Linked DNA regions of Homo sapiens: region 2 is linked to region 1. Evidence: fine-mapped expression QTL. Tissue or cell type: whole blood. Region 1 holds a variant in brackets; the other region holds the start of a gene. All regions are shown on one strand. Distances are between the middles of the regions.

What was found. PIP is the estimated chance that this variant, and not a neighbour inherited with it, causes the effect.
Region 2: TMCC1 starts here. The variant in region 1 is fine-mapped to the expression of TMCC1 in whole blood (TOPMed, PIP 0.98).

What each region holds. Positions count from the first base shown.
Region 1 is chr3:129,656,198-129,664,302 of GRCh38, forward strand. The region is part of intron 5 of TMCC1 (transmembrane and coiled-coil domain family 1); the gene reads right to left. Among named protein-coding and RNA genes, the nearest start is that of PLXND1, 54 kb to the left of the region's middle. RefSeq lists an enhancer at 1,923-2,750. The variant GTTGT/G (reference allele first, on the strand shown) is at 3,959.
Region 2 is chr3:129,889,257-129,897,361 of GRCh38, forward strand. It overlaps TMCC1 (transmembrane and coiled-coil domain family 1), which reads right to left and starts at 4,455. Exons shown (of 7, transcript NM_001017395.5): 1 at 4,238-4,455. TMCC1-DT (TMCC1 divergent transcript) reads left to right here and starts at 4,615. Exons shown (of 3, transcript NR_037893.1): 1 at 4,615-4,671. RefSeq lists enhancers at 3,037-3,829, 3,830-4,621 and a silencer at 3,983-4,712.

The sequences.
Region 1 (8,105 bases):
AGATAGGAGAAAGGTTGAAGACTCCACATTTAAAAAACACTAGAAAAGGGAAGAATAAACATATGTCTAGCTTCTGGTGCCTAGAATGGAAACCTCTCTGTCAGGCAGAGGGCAGATGGGTAGCTCTCATCCCAACAGGGAATGTACTATCACTCAGGTAGCATACATTTAACATTAACACCAGCATGTGAGTCTCAAGGGACTTCATACTAAAAGAATAAAAATGCCAGAACAAACTCACACATCTAAAACTATCTCCTTTCTTTCTTCTTTTTAATCACATCTATAATATGTAAACAAACTTTTAAAGAATATAATGAATTTCTGTGTTTAAGGTAATTTTTATGTTGCAGCATCATAAACATTCTCCCTTCCAATAATTATGCAATAAATAATTATATCCTAAACTCCACTGCTTTTCTAAGAAACAAGGATTTTTTTAAAAGGCATTGTCTTACCCTTTTTACGATGTTACTAAACTCTATTTAGTTCTTCTTTATCCTTGATAGGAGTCTCTATACTGCCTTCTTTTATGCTGAAACTCTTCCTGTTATTGAAGTGACTGAACAGGCTAATGAGAAAGCAGTCCTACTTTTGATGGATAACTAGGGTCAAAGTTCTCTGTGACTCTGCCTTTTCCTTTCATCTGCTGCCCAGAGTACGTGATCAGGAACAGGTCCCATCCCTAGAATTGATTTTCCACCAAAATTTAAGTTCACAAAATGCCATAAGATAATGTTAACATAATGTCTTTTCGTGACTGTCCTATGTTAGCCCACTCTTCTGTGGTGTTTTCGGTGTTTGATAGTTTCATCATTCTCTCTCTTTACCAGAGAGGGGCCAGAGACTTTTTTAAAGCCGCATTCCAAAGTGCTGGTCTCTTGGGATTTAAGGGAAAGGTTATATCTGGCAGGAAATTACTCTCCTCAACTAAGGACTGTTGGGTGGCAGGGAGGGGAGCAGGGTGGTGGTCACCAGCCTACATCTTGATAAAAGCAGACACATGTGGGATCTCTGCATGTGTCCCACAGGCTACCACACAACCTCTTAGCCTACAAATTTCAGGCTTCTTAGGAATCTTATTTGATATTAAACATGGCTCATACATACCAGTAGAACAGATTAAAAAATAGCAGCCACAGCAACAGTTTAATCAGTGCCTACTATGCAAATTCATTTCAACAACCCCAAGAGGGTAGAAGGTATTATCTGCATTTTATAGATGAGGAAACAGAAGCTCAGAGAAGTTCTAAAGTGAATTGCCCAAGGGCACAAAAATATTAAGTAGGGCAGCAAGGATTTGAATCCAGTTTTGACTTTAAAATCCAAGTTCTTAAACTTTACAATGTGATGCCATTTTGAAACTCTACAAACCCAGATCAACTAACTCTCCTCATAAGTAAGAAATCAGAGTCAGAGTGCTAGCGATCCAAATCACTTAGCAAAAGTGAGCTGGAAAGAGCTACACTGATGTGATGGTTTGGAGTCTGATGTCAAAGTGGAGTTGATGGGAGAAGGAGGAGTATAATAAAAAATTATGAACCTACAATTAAAAAGATAAGAGTTGGTGAGGGCATGGAGAAATCTAAACCCTCATATACTGCTGTTGGGAATGGAAAATGGTACAATTGCTCTGCAAAACAGTTTGGCACCTCCTCAAAAAGTTAACAGTTACCTTATGACTCAGCAATTCTACCCCAGATATAACTGAAAAGAAATGAAAACTTATTTCTTCTATACAAAAGCTTGTACATGAATGTTCACACCAGCATTAATCATCATTGCCAAAAAGTATAAACAACCCATATGTATACGAGTGTTCACTGTACAACAATATATCATCTTGGCTGTTCACAAGTCAAGTATCAATATTTTGTATCCTAATCTGCTTGTCATTTGCCACCTGGCAAGTTTCTGTTCACTTTCTTCCTTTCTCCTTCAATCGATGGATGCTCACAGAAACATTAGAACATAAAACACAAATGTGAACACAGTTTTGCTTTTCACTACATGTATGCATATGAAGATCCCGAGCCCTAGGCAAAACTACAAAATAGGCTGACTTATGCCTTCACTCCCACAACATGGACTTCCTTCCTACTGCAGAAACAGTTCACAGGAGCAGGAAGGCTGTTGTTATCCTTTCCTCATCTTCTCACCTGACCTTTCATAATATACAGACACTCTTTGACTTACGATGGGGTTACTTCCTGAAAACAATATTTCCCATTTATGATGGGCTTAAATCAAACCATTGTTAGCCAGGGACTGTCTGTACAACAACATGTATGTCACTCTAGCAAGAATAATTCCCAGGACTGGGGCCTGAGATATTCTCTAGCAGCAGCCTGTGGGCTCTGACTCGGCTTTGACCTTACCTGCCTGGCCTTTTTTGTTCAGACCCAGTATGAAGACAGCAAAATACAAGGCATGCTTATCTTTACAAATAACATGAGGCAAGAAAGAGGTGAAACAGCAGACTGAATTCAAAATGATATTGACAGATTCAAGTGCAGCCAAGACTTTACCAGGGATTAATTCTATAGAAATAGGGAACTACTTCCTACTGCTGAATTCAGGTATCAAGAGCTCATGTAATGAGGGGGTAGCTTGTTCTTTGTAACTCCACAGAACTAAGGAGTAAGTCTTACAAATAGTTTGGTCTTTAGTTCAATTTTAGAAAGAACTTTCTAATAGCTATGTCTAACAATGAAAAAAACTATCTTAGAAAATGAGACCCTGCTACCAGAGATATTCAAGGAGAGGCTGCTTGTCAGGGATGTTGCAGAAATAAATCCTCTATTGAAAGAGATTTAACTAGACCTCTGAGATCTTTTCTAACACCTAGAGTTTGATTCTTTGTAGTCAGGGAACCTGTTTTCCTTTTTCTTTCTTTCTTTTTTTTTTTTTTTTTTTTAAAGAGATGGGGTCTTGCTCTGTCACCCAGGGTGGAGTGCAGTGGTGCAATCATGGCTCACTGCAGCCTCAAATTCCAGAGCTCAAGGGATCCTCCCACCTCAGCCTTCTGAGTAGCTGGGACTACTGACATGCACCACCAAGCCTGGCTATTTTTTTTTTTCAGAGACAGGGTCTCACTATGTTGCCCAGGCTGGTCTTGAACTCCTGAGCTCAAGCAATCCTCCTGCCTCAGCTTCCCAAAGTGCTGAGACTACAGGTGTGGGGCACCACACCTGGCTATTTTCATCTTTCAAACTATAGATACTTTAAATTTTGTGGTATATTTGCCTTCACAACGTATTGATTTTAACAACAATAAAGGGGGGCAAGGAGGTACACAAAATAGTGGTAATTTAAGAACTATGTAAAATCAGGTGTGAAATATTGGGATTCACTTGGTATGTGAGGTGGTGAGGAATATATATGAATCAGAGAATACTTGCAAAAGTCCTCAGCACTTATTCCCAACACTTTTGAACCTTACAATAAACCAATGTTTATCATAAGAAGGTTGCAAACCTGTCAAAGGTTCTGGAAGTCATTTTCAAACTAGATTTTGGTTCATCCCATATTATGTCTAGAGGTGCTCCATCTTCACTCCTGCCATTTTGCACCTAGAAATGTTTTCATAATGCAGTTTGTACCAGCTAATGCATGTGCTCAGTCCAGGTTTTGGATTAAAATCCCAGCTCTGCAACTCGCTAGCTTGGGTGATCCTTTTCATCCTCTATAAAGAGGAAATCTACCTACTCCAAAGGGCAATTGCAAAGATTAAAGGAGAAGACAGACATCAAATACCTGGCACACAAGAGGTGCTCTGTGAGACAGATATATCACAAATATACATTTGGTTTCATTTTTCTCTTTTGTGAGTCTCCTAGTTCTCCCCAACAATCCCTAGCGAGGTAGTTCAAAAAGATTGCTTGTTGACTGCCACATAGTCTTACTCCACTGTTCACTGATTCCCACTTCTGACTTTTTTCTCTAAGCCTTTGTTGTT[GTTGT/G]TTGTTTGAGACAGGGTTTTCTCTGTCGCCCAGGTTGGAGTGCAGTGGCGTGATCGTGGCTCATTGTGGTCTCAATCTCCTAGGCTCTAGTGACCCTTCCACCTCAGCCTCCCAAGCAGCTGGGACTACAGGCATGTGCCACCACGCCCGGTTAATTTTGTTTTTGTATTTTCTGTAGAGACGGGGTTTCGCCATGTTACCCAGGCTGGTCTTGAATTCCTGGATTGAAGTGATCTTCCTGCCTTGGCCTCCCAAAGTGCTGGGATTACAGGCATGAGCCACTGTCCATGGCCTTAAGTCTTCATTTCTTTATGTCCACTTTCCCAATTTTATATATTTTGACATTTTCACTGTTTTCAGTATATTTATGATGTTTTTCCTATGACATCACAGAAATGGGTTTACTGGGCACACACTCCATCCTCCTCAATCCTAGATACAAGCCTCTTTTACTTCTTATTTCATACATCTAGGTTCCTGCCATTTCCCTGGCTCAAGTTTGCCAGATAATTCAAATAGTTCCATGCACTGGCCATTTCCAAACTTTCCTTTGTACTGGTGAAACTATCTACCTATGTATGTGTGTGAGGAAAGGTGTCTCAAGTAATTTTTATTTTTTTATTTTAGAGACAGAGTCTCACTATGTTGTCCATGCTGGAGTACAGTGGTTATTCAGAGGCATAATCATGGTGCACTGCAGCCTCAAACTCCTGGGCTCAAGTGATCCTCCCATCTCAGCCTCCTGAGTAGCTGGGACTACAGACCTGTGCCATTGTGCCCAGCTCAAGTAAATTTTATCTAATTTTTTCAAATCTCCAAAAAGAGTTATATAGAAACTGCTAATCCTCACCATGCTCTTACAGAAAATAAAGTCCTTTAGAGGTTGAACAATTTATTCACAGTTACATGGGAAATTAACAGCAAGTTCTTCTCAAGCTGAGTCTTCCCAAATAAGAAAATGTAACTATTGTTCACAGAGATAATGCTTTGTTAGCAAGCAGCTAAATAGCAAAGCAGCATTTGGGTAAGTAGAATGATCTCAGCAGATGAAACAGACAAACATGGAGACCAATCTGGGCAAAATAGCAAAACCCTGTCTTTACAAAAAATACAAAAATTAGCTGGGCATAGTGGCATGCACCTGCAGTCCCAGCTACTCAGGAGGCTGAGGTGGGAGGATCACTTGAGCCCGAGAGGTCAAGGCTGCAGTGAGCCGAGACTGTGTCACTACCCTCCAGTCTGGGTGACAGAGCAAGAACCTGTCTCAAACAAACAGAAAAACCCACAAACAAAAACAGGAGTCCCAGAAGGATGCAGTGACTCCCTAGTTAGTAGTGAGGTTTAATAAGGATCTGAACCAATTGGCTTGTGCCTGTTATTAGATTATTGTCTTTTTAAAAACTTTTTGACTGGGCAAATTGCTTGACCCCAGGAGTTTCAGACCAGCTTGGGCAACATGGTGAAACCCTGTCTCTACTAAAAATACAAAAAAAATCAGGTTGGTGTGGTGGCATGTGCCTGTAATCCCAGCTACTTGGGAGGCTGAGGTGAGAGGACTGCTTCAGCATGGAAGGCAGAGGTGCAGTGAGCTGAGACTGTGCCACTGCACTCCAGCCTGGGTGACAGAGTAAGACCTTGTCTCAAAGAGAAGACAAAAAAATTCTGTATTGTTAATGAAATGCAAATAACGAAAGGAAAAAAAAACCTGTATTCTAGTTCCCACTGACTTCCCACTATCCCCATTACTAATATTATAATCTTCTTAGCACACTTTATTTTCTAGTGTTTACTTCCTGTCTAAATTCTAAAATGGAGAAACCAGGTACAAATACCTCTATCTTCTCATTAAATATTAACACCAAGCCAAACAGTAGGGGAGAAAAAGGGAAGATACATGTTTTATAGACTTTCATATGTGAAAGTCTTGGGTTTTTTTTAAACCTAGAACTCTGCTTTAAGGAATTTTAACCCCTTTACAGGATGCTAAATAGAACTCTCCAGACACAAATCGGGGCAGAGGAGATGGTGGGTGGGTGGGAGGTTCTTAATCATACAAGAACAGTCATGCCTCACTTAATGATGGGGACACATCTTGAGAAATGAGTTGTTACGTTATTTTATCACTATGTGAACACCATACAGTGTACTTACACAAATCTAGATAGTACAGCCTATGATACACTTAGGCTGTATGGTACAGTCAATTGTTCCTAGGCTACAAAGCTGTACAGCAAGTTACTGTACCATAGGCAACTGCAGACAGCTGTAATACAATAGTGTTTGTGTATCTAGACATATCTAAACATAGAAAAGGCACACTAAAAATATGGCATTACAGGCTTGGTAGTGCATGCCTGTAATCCCAGCTGCTTGGAAGCTGAGGCACGACAATTGCTTGAAACCGTGAGGCAGAGGTTTCAGTGAGCCGAGACTGTACCACTGCACTCCAGCCTGGGCAAGAGTGAGACTCCATCTCAAAAAAACAAAACAAAACAAAAACAGCATTATAAACTTATGAAACAACTGTCTTATATGTTGTTGATCAAAATGTCATTATTCAGCACATGACTATGTGTGATTTTGGCTGGCAAATGATGTTCACGCACCTCCGCTTGGATTACAAGTAGCATGAGATTAATAATCTTATTTTAAGGATTTTTACTCAAGGTCCTTCCTAAATTGTTACAACCCAAAGAGAACCTGGACACTTAAATATGGCATGAGCTTAACTATCAGCAAACAGAAAGCCTTTGCACTGTAAGATTATTTTTTCTAAAAGCAAGTATCATATTTTGGTAGATGAAATTCATCCCCCACTGGAAGCAAAACCTGTTCTATCTACAAAGTATTAAACACATCAAGATTTTGTCGTAGGTAAATAATTCATAAATAAATACTAAACTTGAAAGTGTTTTGGTCACTAGGTCAACACAGTAGTCAACTTCCTAGATCAGAGATGAGCCAGGGGCCTTTTGTGTCAAATTACTGATGAATGGGAGCCTGGGTGAGTACACAGCCTGGGAATGCTTTGACCTGAAGCATTCCTCTTTGGGTGTGGCTCAAAAGTTTGGAGCCATCTCTGAGAACCAATGGTGCTTCCCTAGTTCGGCAATAGGTCACTAGCACAGGATAGCTGAAGAAACTTGTGGAGCAGGTATTGAGAGAAACAGGAAGAACTAGGTCCCAGGAAAAACACCCACAGGCAACTATGGGAGAAGAATGGACTATTTCCCAAATGCATACCAGAGACCCAAAATAGCTTCTGCCAGTGTTTGACCAGAGTAGAGAGACACAGTTGGGGTAGGGAGTATGACTTGCGGTGGGAGTTTGAATAGGTTCCTAGCTGAATTGGGGAGAGTGGATTTTTTTCTCCTTACCTTTTGTTACCTTTTTTGTGTTGAAGCCTGAAAAGAAGCTAAAAAACACTGAACTAGCCTTCAGCTGAAAAGGGAAAAAGATATCAGTCCCCCACAATATTTCAAGGGTAGGCAATGAATTATCTTAATGACAAGAAAACAGTAAATATCTAAATAATACAGGAAATAAATAAAAACTAGAGGGGCTTTCTGGGCAACTTGCAGACTTGGTAATGACAGCTTTCTAACATTCTGGCACAACCCAGATCTTTGTATTCCCCTAGAAAAAATGGAGGAGGAGGGAGCATTTGTTGAGCTCCTACTCTAAACCAAACATCACACTAGGTACTTCCATATATGTTATCTCCTTTAATAACTTCAACAACCATGTACAATAAATATCATTACATTTTTACAGAGGGAGAAACTGAGGCTCAGATGAGTTATGTAATCTACTCAGAGCTGGCAAGCAAATTCAAGTTTGTCCACTCCAAGGAATAAGGGTTAATTAATTAATCCCCTCCATTCCTCTTTAGCGGCTAAACGCTAAACTGGGATGAGCTCACCCATAAATCTCTTTTATGGAAGATTGTATACGTCATATTTCCTAATTGGGATTTTGCTTCTCTCATAAATGAAGGGCTAATTTGATTCAGTACCCTCAGTTTCTATTTCAAACTTATTGTCCAAATCTAGCCTACATATCGTCTGGAGATTCTCAGATCACTTTTCAGTTGACAGGTCTCACACATAGAATAAAGGGGCTAAAACAGGTACCTCTGAGCAT
Region 2 (8,105 bases), 230 kb after region 1:
GGGAGATCCTGTCTCAAAAAAACAAACAAACAAAACCTGACCAGTAATGTTCAAAACTGCCAAGGTCACTAAATACAGGGAAAGTCTGAGAAATTGTCACAACCAAGAGGAGCTAAGGAGACATAATTACTAAATGTAATGTGGTATTGTGGATGGGATCCTGGGATAGTGAAAGAACATTAAGGAAAAAACCTGTGGAAACCTGATAAAGTATGGTCTCTGTGATAATGTATCAATACTGGTTTATTAATACAGACAAATGATCACAGGGATGTAAGACGTTAATAATATGGGAAACAGTGTAGGATAGGCAGGAACTCTGCAGTATCTTTGCAATGTTTCTGTAAATCTAAATTTTAAAGTCTATTTTTAAAAATTATAACAAATTTATGATCAACGGCATCCCTGGAATTTTACTCAGTGCATCTAGGACACAAAAGATACTTAAAATATGGTCTTTGCCTTCAAGAAGCTTGTTGTCGCAGAGTGAAGACAAATGCTCATGAAACTAGTATAAAATACAAAAATAAGAAAAAATTAAATTGAAGAGTAAAGATAAAACTATATTAAGAATATAAAGAAGGTCTAGAATTATCAGGAAAGATTTGGTCAAGGAGATAAAACTTGAATTTGTACCTTAAAATATACTTCAGAGTAGCAAAGTTAAAAAAAAAAAAAAAGAATAAACTAAGCTCACAACAACCAGAAGGGTGAAGAAATAAGAAAAAGCTAACAGAAATTAAAATGGCTGGGGCATGGTGGCTCATGCTTATAAACCCAGCACTTTTGGAGGCCAAGGCAAGGGGGATCACTTGAGGCCAGGAGTTTGCCTAGGCAACATATGAGACCCCATCTCTCTCCATAATATCTTTAAAAAAAAGAAAAATAAAAACATTCAGCTCTGAAAAGTGAAGACTTAAATAGGAGACATAATAGCAGTGCTCAAACACTTTAAGGGTCATGTGGCAGAACTAACAGAGTTACACCTATACCCATTTAACTTACAAGCCAACCTCTGGCAAAATGTGACCAATGCTCAAGGACAAAGAGAGTGACAGCTGTTCAGTGGAGCCACAACAGGAAATGCCAATATGGATAGACAGGAAGCAGGTGGCTAAGTTCTCTACAACTTTTCAAAGGACAGTATGTATGTGAGCCCAAAGAAGTAAAAATCAGATTCTAATTCTGCAAATGTTTACTGACTATCTTAAGTGCCGGGCTCTTTCAAATACATTATCTTGTTTAATATTCGCAACACATCTATGAGCATGTATTAATGTAATAGAGGCTTAACATAAAAATAGAATTAAACCCTGCATGGAAACAGGAACATGTCAAAATTCTATACCATCCCCCACTCTCTGATAGGGACTCCAGAGCAGTTTTAAAAAGCCAAACAGTCTGAAGGCCCAGATACCTATATAACAATTTATTTCCTCTTGCTCTTTCCCTCAGTCAAGCTCTGTGGCTCTCAGCCTTTCATATTCGTAAGAATTTTATACAACTATACATACAAAAACATGCAGACCATACTTTTTGAGCAATTTATGGAATTTTCCAGAAGAGTTTTCATCTTACATGATTTTTGCCTCATGCACTAACTTGAGGACCTAACCCTGGGATGAGGTGCAACTCCACTGCAGTCTTACTCCATGGGTACTGTAAGGCAGGATCAGGAAGAGGAAACGGAAAGGTACCATCCTATTACATGAAGAACAACATTCTAACAAAGACATAAAATGTATTTACATAAAATGTAAGAATGACATGTTATGTGGGGAAGTTCAACACTGGAAAACAAGAGCAGCTCATCTGCACCTGCAGACCTTTGCACTCACTGTTTCATTTACCAGGAAAGCGCTACCATTTTTCAGGTCACAACTCAAATACCTTCTCCTTAATGAGGCCTCCTCTCACTAAGTAACCCTCCACCCACCTTTCAGTCATTCACTTGTCACATCAGCTTGTTTTATTTTCTTCATAATTCATATTAGGGGTCAGCAAACATTTTCTATAAAAGGCCAGACTATAATCTATAGGCCAAATCCACCTTGCCCCGTTTTATATGGCTAAGAATGGTTTTACATTTTTAAATGGCTAGGGGAAAATATTTTTAAAAACTCATTAATATTCTGTGACATGTGAAAATTTTATGAAATTCAAATTTCAGTGTCCCAAGTTTAACTGGAATATAAACATATTTGTTCACGTACTGTCTGTGGCTGCTTTTGTACTAAAACAGAATTGAGTAGTTGCAAAAGAGATCATATGGCCCAAAAACCCTGGTATGTACTGTACTTCCTGGTCCTTTACCAAAAAAAGCTTACTAACCACTGATTTATATCATTATCTGAAATGATCCTATTTGCTTGTTTGTTGTATATTCCTCATTCCCATACATACAGAATAAAGCTTAATTAGGGAAGAGGCCTTGTCTGTTTTGTCCCAACAATGTAGCCCAGTACTTAGAAAACATCCTGGAACAAAGTAAGGGCTCAATAAACATTTGATGAATTAATGAATGATCCATAAATGCCACTCTGAGGAGCTTAAACCTAAGCCCTGAGCCATTATATGTTCTGCACATTTATGAGAGGCATAAGCAGTCTTGCAGAAAAGGGGAAATATTCTACTATCAAGAAGGCCCAGTTTAAAGTAATGGTGGTTGGTCACCAACTAGTCTAGGGCACTGGGGTTCTTCATCAAATTGTAGACTACAGGTCTTTTGTGCTCATAAAAGAGTCCTTCTGCAAGGTGTCCCAACACTGTCAGCGGTCTGTGCTTCTGTTTATCTTAAGATGCAAATGCTCTGAGAAATCTCATTCTTATACACAGTACACAGCACCTACACCATACCAAATCTTAATCAATGCTCATAATTATAACAGTTCTACATCACATGCTAATGAATTTTTAACGTCTAAAATTTTCCTATGCTGCTGATCAGCAATCTATAAGCAGCTCAAAACTCTTCAGAAATTAAAAGGTTACCACCCACAGACCAGAAGCAGCTTTTTAATCTTTCTACACTAGCCAGAGAGTGGGTGATTGCAAAAAAATACAAGCCAACTCTGTTGGTAGAGGACAGGGTTATTAAGTTAAAATCCCATCTATAAGCATCGTTTTGTCACATGACACTAGTAAAACTACCACCTACTCACAATTTGAGTTTCAATCTCCTAATATACAGAGAAAAAAATGTATCTACCTCCTGGAACAAATCAAAGTTTTGTTTTATTTTAAAGCAGCTATCTGATATTTATGCCCTGGATTTTTTTTTTTTAAGAACAGAATAAGCTAATTTAGGAATTCACACCTTTCGTAGAGATGCTTATGGTACAGGTACCTCTGACGGCTAGGCTCTACCAACACTAACGTGTAACGTGTCACAAAAGCCAACGGGCGTTGCGGGGGCCGGGGGTAGCCAACAGCTCAAGTGGGCTGCTTCACTCCGTGGCAGATTCACCTGGGGATTCCTCACCAAGAATGTTGTTAAGGGACGAACCAAACCAACCACAAATGATACCCCTTTACCGAGGCTGAAAAAGCAGAGATTCGCAAGCTATAAACGAATCTCTGGCCCTTTAGGGAAGGTGCAACTCGCTGCACCTCTTTCCCCTATCCTACAGGGGTTAACAGGGGGCATCCTGAGGCCGAGACCAAGCCCAGCCAGCTCCTCCTCACATCCCACCTCCCACTACATATTCTCCCCAGTACGCCGGGCTCCCTCCTCCCCTCGAAAGACAGTTCAAAATCAAAACAATAGGTGCAAAACTGGTTTCAGGTGGAAATGGCTGAGTCCTGGTGGCTAACTTCTGGGACGCCATGGCGATCGAGGGCTCCTAAAACCCCAGATTCCGACGGGAACCGGCTCCTAAACAGTCCCTCGGGCCTCGGCCCGACTTCTCACACGCCCCTCCCTCACCTCGGCCCTGGGATGCTGGGAAGGGAACGAGGCGAGGGGCTGGAGGGGAACCCCAGGTCAAAATGACAGCGGAATGAGCCGGGAAAGGAAAGAGGCCCCGTGGGATGCTGGGGGTCGAGTCCTAGGCCCGGGGCTTCAACCTCGAACGGGGGCGACGGCAGGTCCCAGCCCCGACAGGCCGCGAGCGGGAGGCCAGGCCCGCGTCCGCTGCGCCGCCAGGCCACGCTCCCTCACGACTGTCCCCACCCACCGCGGAGGGCCGTGAGGGGGCCGCGACCGCCGCCAGCGTCCGGGGCGGGGGCGCTCACTCACCGGCGGGGAGGGGAGGAGCAGCCGGCGTCTCCGCCAGCGCCGTCGCTCGAGCTCAAGCGCCTGCTCCTTCCACTGCGGCCGCCGCACCCGGTCCATCCCCCACAACCACCCCCCCCTCCCGACCCTCCCCCCGCGCCGCCTCAGCCGCCGCCGCCTCAGTCACCGCCACCGCCGCCGCCGCCTCAGCCCCGGCGCGGGAGGGCGAACCGGCGCGAGAGAGCGAGCGCGCGCGCGCCCCCGCCACAGCCGCCACCGCCCACAACCTCCGCCCCCGGCCGGCGGCGCACGCGCAAGGGAGCGGGCGGACGGGCGCGCGCACGCCGCAGGGGCGGGGATGGGCCCTGGAAGGCGTGGCCCCTCCCCTAGCCCGCCTTCCCACGCGGTCTCTGGGCTGGTTGAGCTGCGCCGCTGCAGGTAGTGCTGAGTTGCTCCAGGTAAGCTCCTCCTCTCAAAAAGCTCTAGGAACCGAGCCACCCTCGCCCTAGGAGCAACGCCCCTGAGTAATATGGGGTTTCGTCGGATTTCTGCCCGCCGCTCTGGATCACACGTTTGTTCTCCCTATTTGAGTCGCAAGGCCTTCCTTCATTCCACCTAGCAGGCTGCTTGGAAAAGGGCAGAGACTCATTACTTTGCACCAGGTATTACCACTGAAGGGATTGTAAGCAGCCACCAGCCCATCCCTTTATAATTCCCATTTTCCTAATTTATTTTATTTTTATTACTTATGTAATGAGGCTTCTTCCGTGTTCAAGGAGCTGGGAGTACCATATGGGGTCAACGGAGTCCCTGGTCTCATGAAGTTTGAGATCTGGTGGAGAAGGAAAACATTCATGGGAGAATCAGACAAAATTAAGTTTTCAATTAGTAAAAATCTTCTGAGAGGTATATGGTACTAAGAGAATCTTTATGGGGGAATTGATTTAGTTGAGGATGAAGAGGGTAGAATCTGAGGAATTGAGTTGGGAGGAGTTAGTTGCTCCAAGGGGTGAGGTCTTGGCATGGCCAGAATGGGGAGCGCTAAAGAATATTGAATGTGGAGTAGACTGCGAGTGTGGGAAGAGGTAGGCGAGAACAGGTGAGGATTGGGGACCTATTTATTTATTTATTTATTGAGACAGAGTCTCACTCTGTCACCCAGGTCACCCAGGCTGGAGTGCAATGGCTCGATCTCAGCTCACTGCAACCTCCGCCTCCTGGGTTCAAGCGATTCTCCTGTCTCAGCCTCCGGAGTAGCTGGACTACCAGCGCACGCCAGCGCACCTGGCTAATTTTTGTATTTTTAGTAGAGATGGGGTTTCGCCATCTTGGCCAGGCTGGTCTGGAACTCCTGACCTTGTGATCTGCCCGCCTCGGCCTCCCAAAGTGCTGGGATTGCAGGCATGAGCCACCACACCCGGCCGGATTTGGGACTTTAATCTGAGTGCTTGGTAGAAGCTATTCAGGTTTTTTTCAGCAGGGTTGCAGGGGAAATAACTTGATCATTATGTCTGTTTTTTGTTTTTGAGAGGCAGACTGGAGTGCAGTGGCGCGATCTCGGCTCCCTGCAATCTCTGCCTCCCGGGTTCAAGTGATTTTCCTGCCTCAGCCTCCCTAGTACCTGGGACTACAGGTGCACGCCACTGCACCCAGCTAATTTTTTTAGTATTTTTAGTAGAAACGGGGTTTCACCATGTTGGCCAGGATGGTCTGAATCTCCTGACTTCATGATCCACCCACCTCGGCCTCCCAAAGTGCTGGGATTACAGGTGTGAGCCACCTTGCCCCCAGCCCATTATGTCTGTTTTTAAGTTACTTAGATAGCAACGTGAAGAGTGGTCTGATGGGAGTCTCAAAGCTGGGGCCGGGAAGCCAGTTAGGAGGCCACTGGCCACATAGTCAAGGCAAAGTAGGAGGGTAGTGACAGAGAAGAGTGCTAATGTAGTGGTAAAATGGACAGGACTTGGCAATAAATTGAATGAGGAGTGAAGGAGAAGGAGGTGGCAAGGTTTACTTAGATTTGAGGTTGGTGGAGGATGCATTTATAGATTTCAGAAGCACTGAAGGAGCCACCTGAGGTAACTCAAAATGGATGATAAACCTAAATTTAAAAGCTAAACCTATAAAAGAAAATTTTAGAAGAAAACATAGAAAAAGTATTTGTGACCTTGGGATAGGCAAAGACTTCTTAGGACACAAAAAATATGAACCATAAAAAGTGATTCATGGCCTGGCTCACACCTGTAATCCCAGCACTTTGGGAGGCCAAGGCAGGCAGATCACTTGAGCTCAGGAGTTCAAGACCAGCCTGGGCAACATGGCAAAATGCTATCTCTACAAAAAATACAAAAGTTAGCTGGGCTTGTTGGCACGTACCTGCAGTCTCAGCTAACTTGTGGGGCTGAGGAAGGAGGATCACTTGAACCTGGGAGGCGGAGGTTGCAGTGAGCTGAGATGGCGCCACTGCACTCCAGCCTGAGTGACAGGGTGAGACCCTGTCTCAAAAAAAAAAAAAAAAAAAAGAAAGCAATTGATAAGTTGAACTCTATCAAAATTAAAAACTGGTACTCTTTGAGAGACAACATTAAGAAAATGAAAAGGCAAGCCACAGGTGGAGAGTTTGCAATAGAAAGCATTAGACAAAAGTCTTGTATCCAGAATACATAAAGAACTGTTATAAATGAGTAATAAGCCAGCCCAATAAACCAATGGGCAAAGGCTTTTTTTATATCTTGTAGATAGTTCACAAGATACAAAAATGGCCTATAAGCAATGAAGAGATTACCAACATCTTTAGTCAACTAGGGATTTTTCCATTTAAAACCACAACACTCTCATTAGGATAGCTAAAATTAAGACCGATGACCCAGCAATCACACTCCTACACATCTCCTTAACCATACTTGATCTCTAAAGGCTGACAATAACACACCAGGGACCCTGTAATCCCAGCACTTTGGGAGGCCAAGGCAAGAGGATCGCTTCAGCCCAGGAGTTCAAGACCAGCCTGGGCAACCTAATGAGACCCCATTTCTACAAAAAAAATTTTTTTTAATTAGCCAGTGTGGGAGTGTACACCTGTAGTCCTAGCTACTGGGGAGCCTGAGGCAGGAGGATCCCTTGAGCCCAGGAGTTCAAGGTTGCAGTGACCTATGATCGCACCACTGTACTCCGGCCTGGGTACCACAGCAAGACCATATCTCTTAAAAAAAAAAAGTCTTTGGCTGGGCGCAGTGGCTCACGCCTGTAATCCCAGCACTTTGGGAGGCCAATGTGGGCAGATCATGAGGTCAGGAGTTTGAGACCAGCTTGGCCAACATGGTGAAACCCCATCTCTACTAAAAATACAAAAATTAGCCGGATGTGGCAGCGTATGCCTCTAATCCCAGCTACTCAGGAGGCTGAGGCAGGAGAATCGCTTGAACTTGGGAGGCGGCGGTTGCAGTGAGCCAAGATCATGCCATTGCATTCAAGCCTGGGTGACAGAGTGAGACTATGTCTCAAAAAAAAAAAAAATTTAAAGACAATAACAAAGTCATACTTTCACTTAACATGATATAACTATCCTGCATACTATTGAAAACATAACAACACTTTTCCCAAGGGGATGCAAAGTCCTTGAGTGATGTTTCTTCTCCACCTTTGATGTCTTATAACTTAATACTGCAATATAAAGTTACCTATCATTAATACGTCTCCATCTTGTAGTAGCAACCGAATTTCCTGCTTAGTAATCAGGATTAGTCACCTCAGCCAGTAGAGGAACTTCCCACTTTACCTGTTGATTCAGAGGCATGAAAGACCCAAGGTGGCCAGGTGACCACCTCAACTCCCAATTCAATGGAAATGTTGTTGGGTCTCCTGGTGGAAGCATTCCTTCTTTTGGAACTAA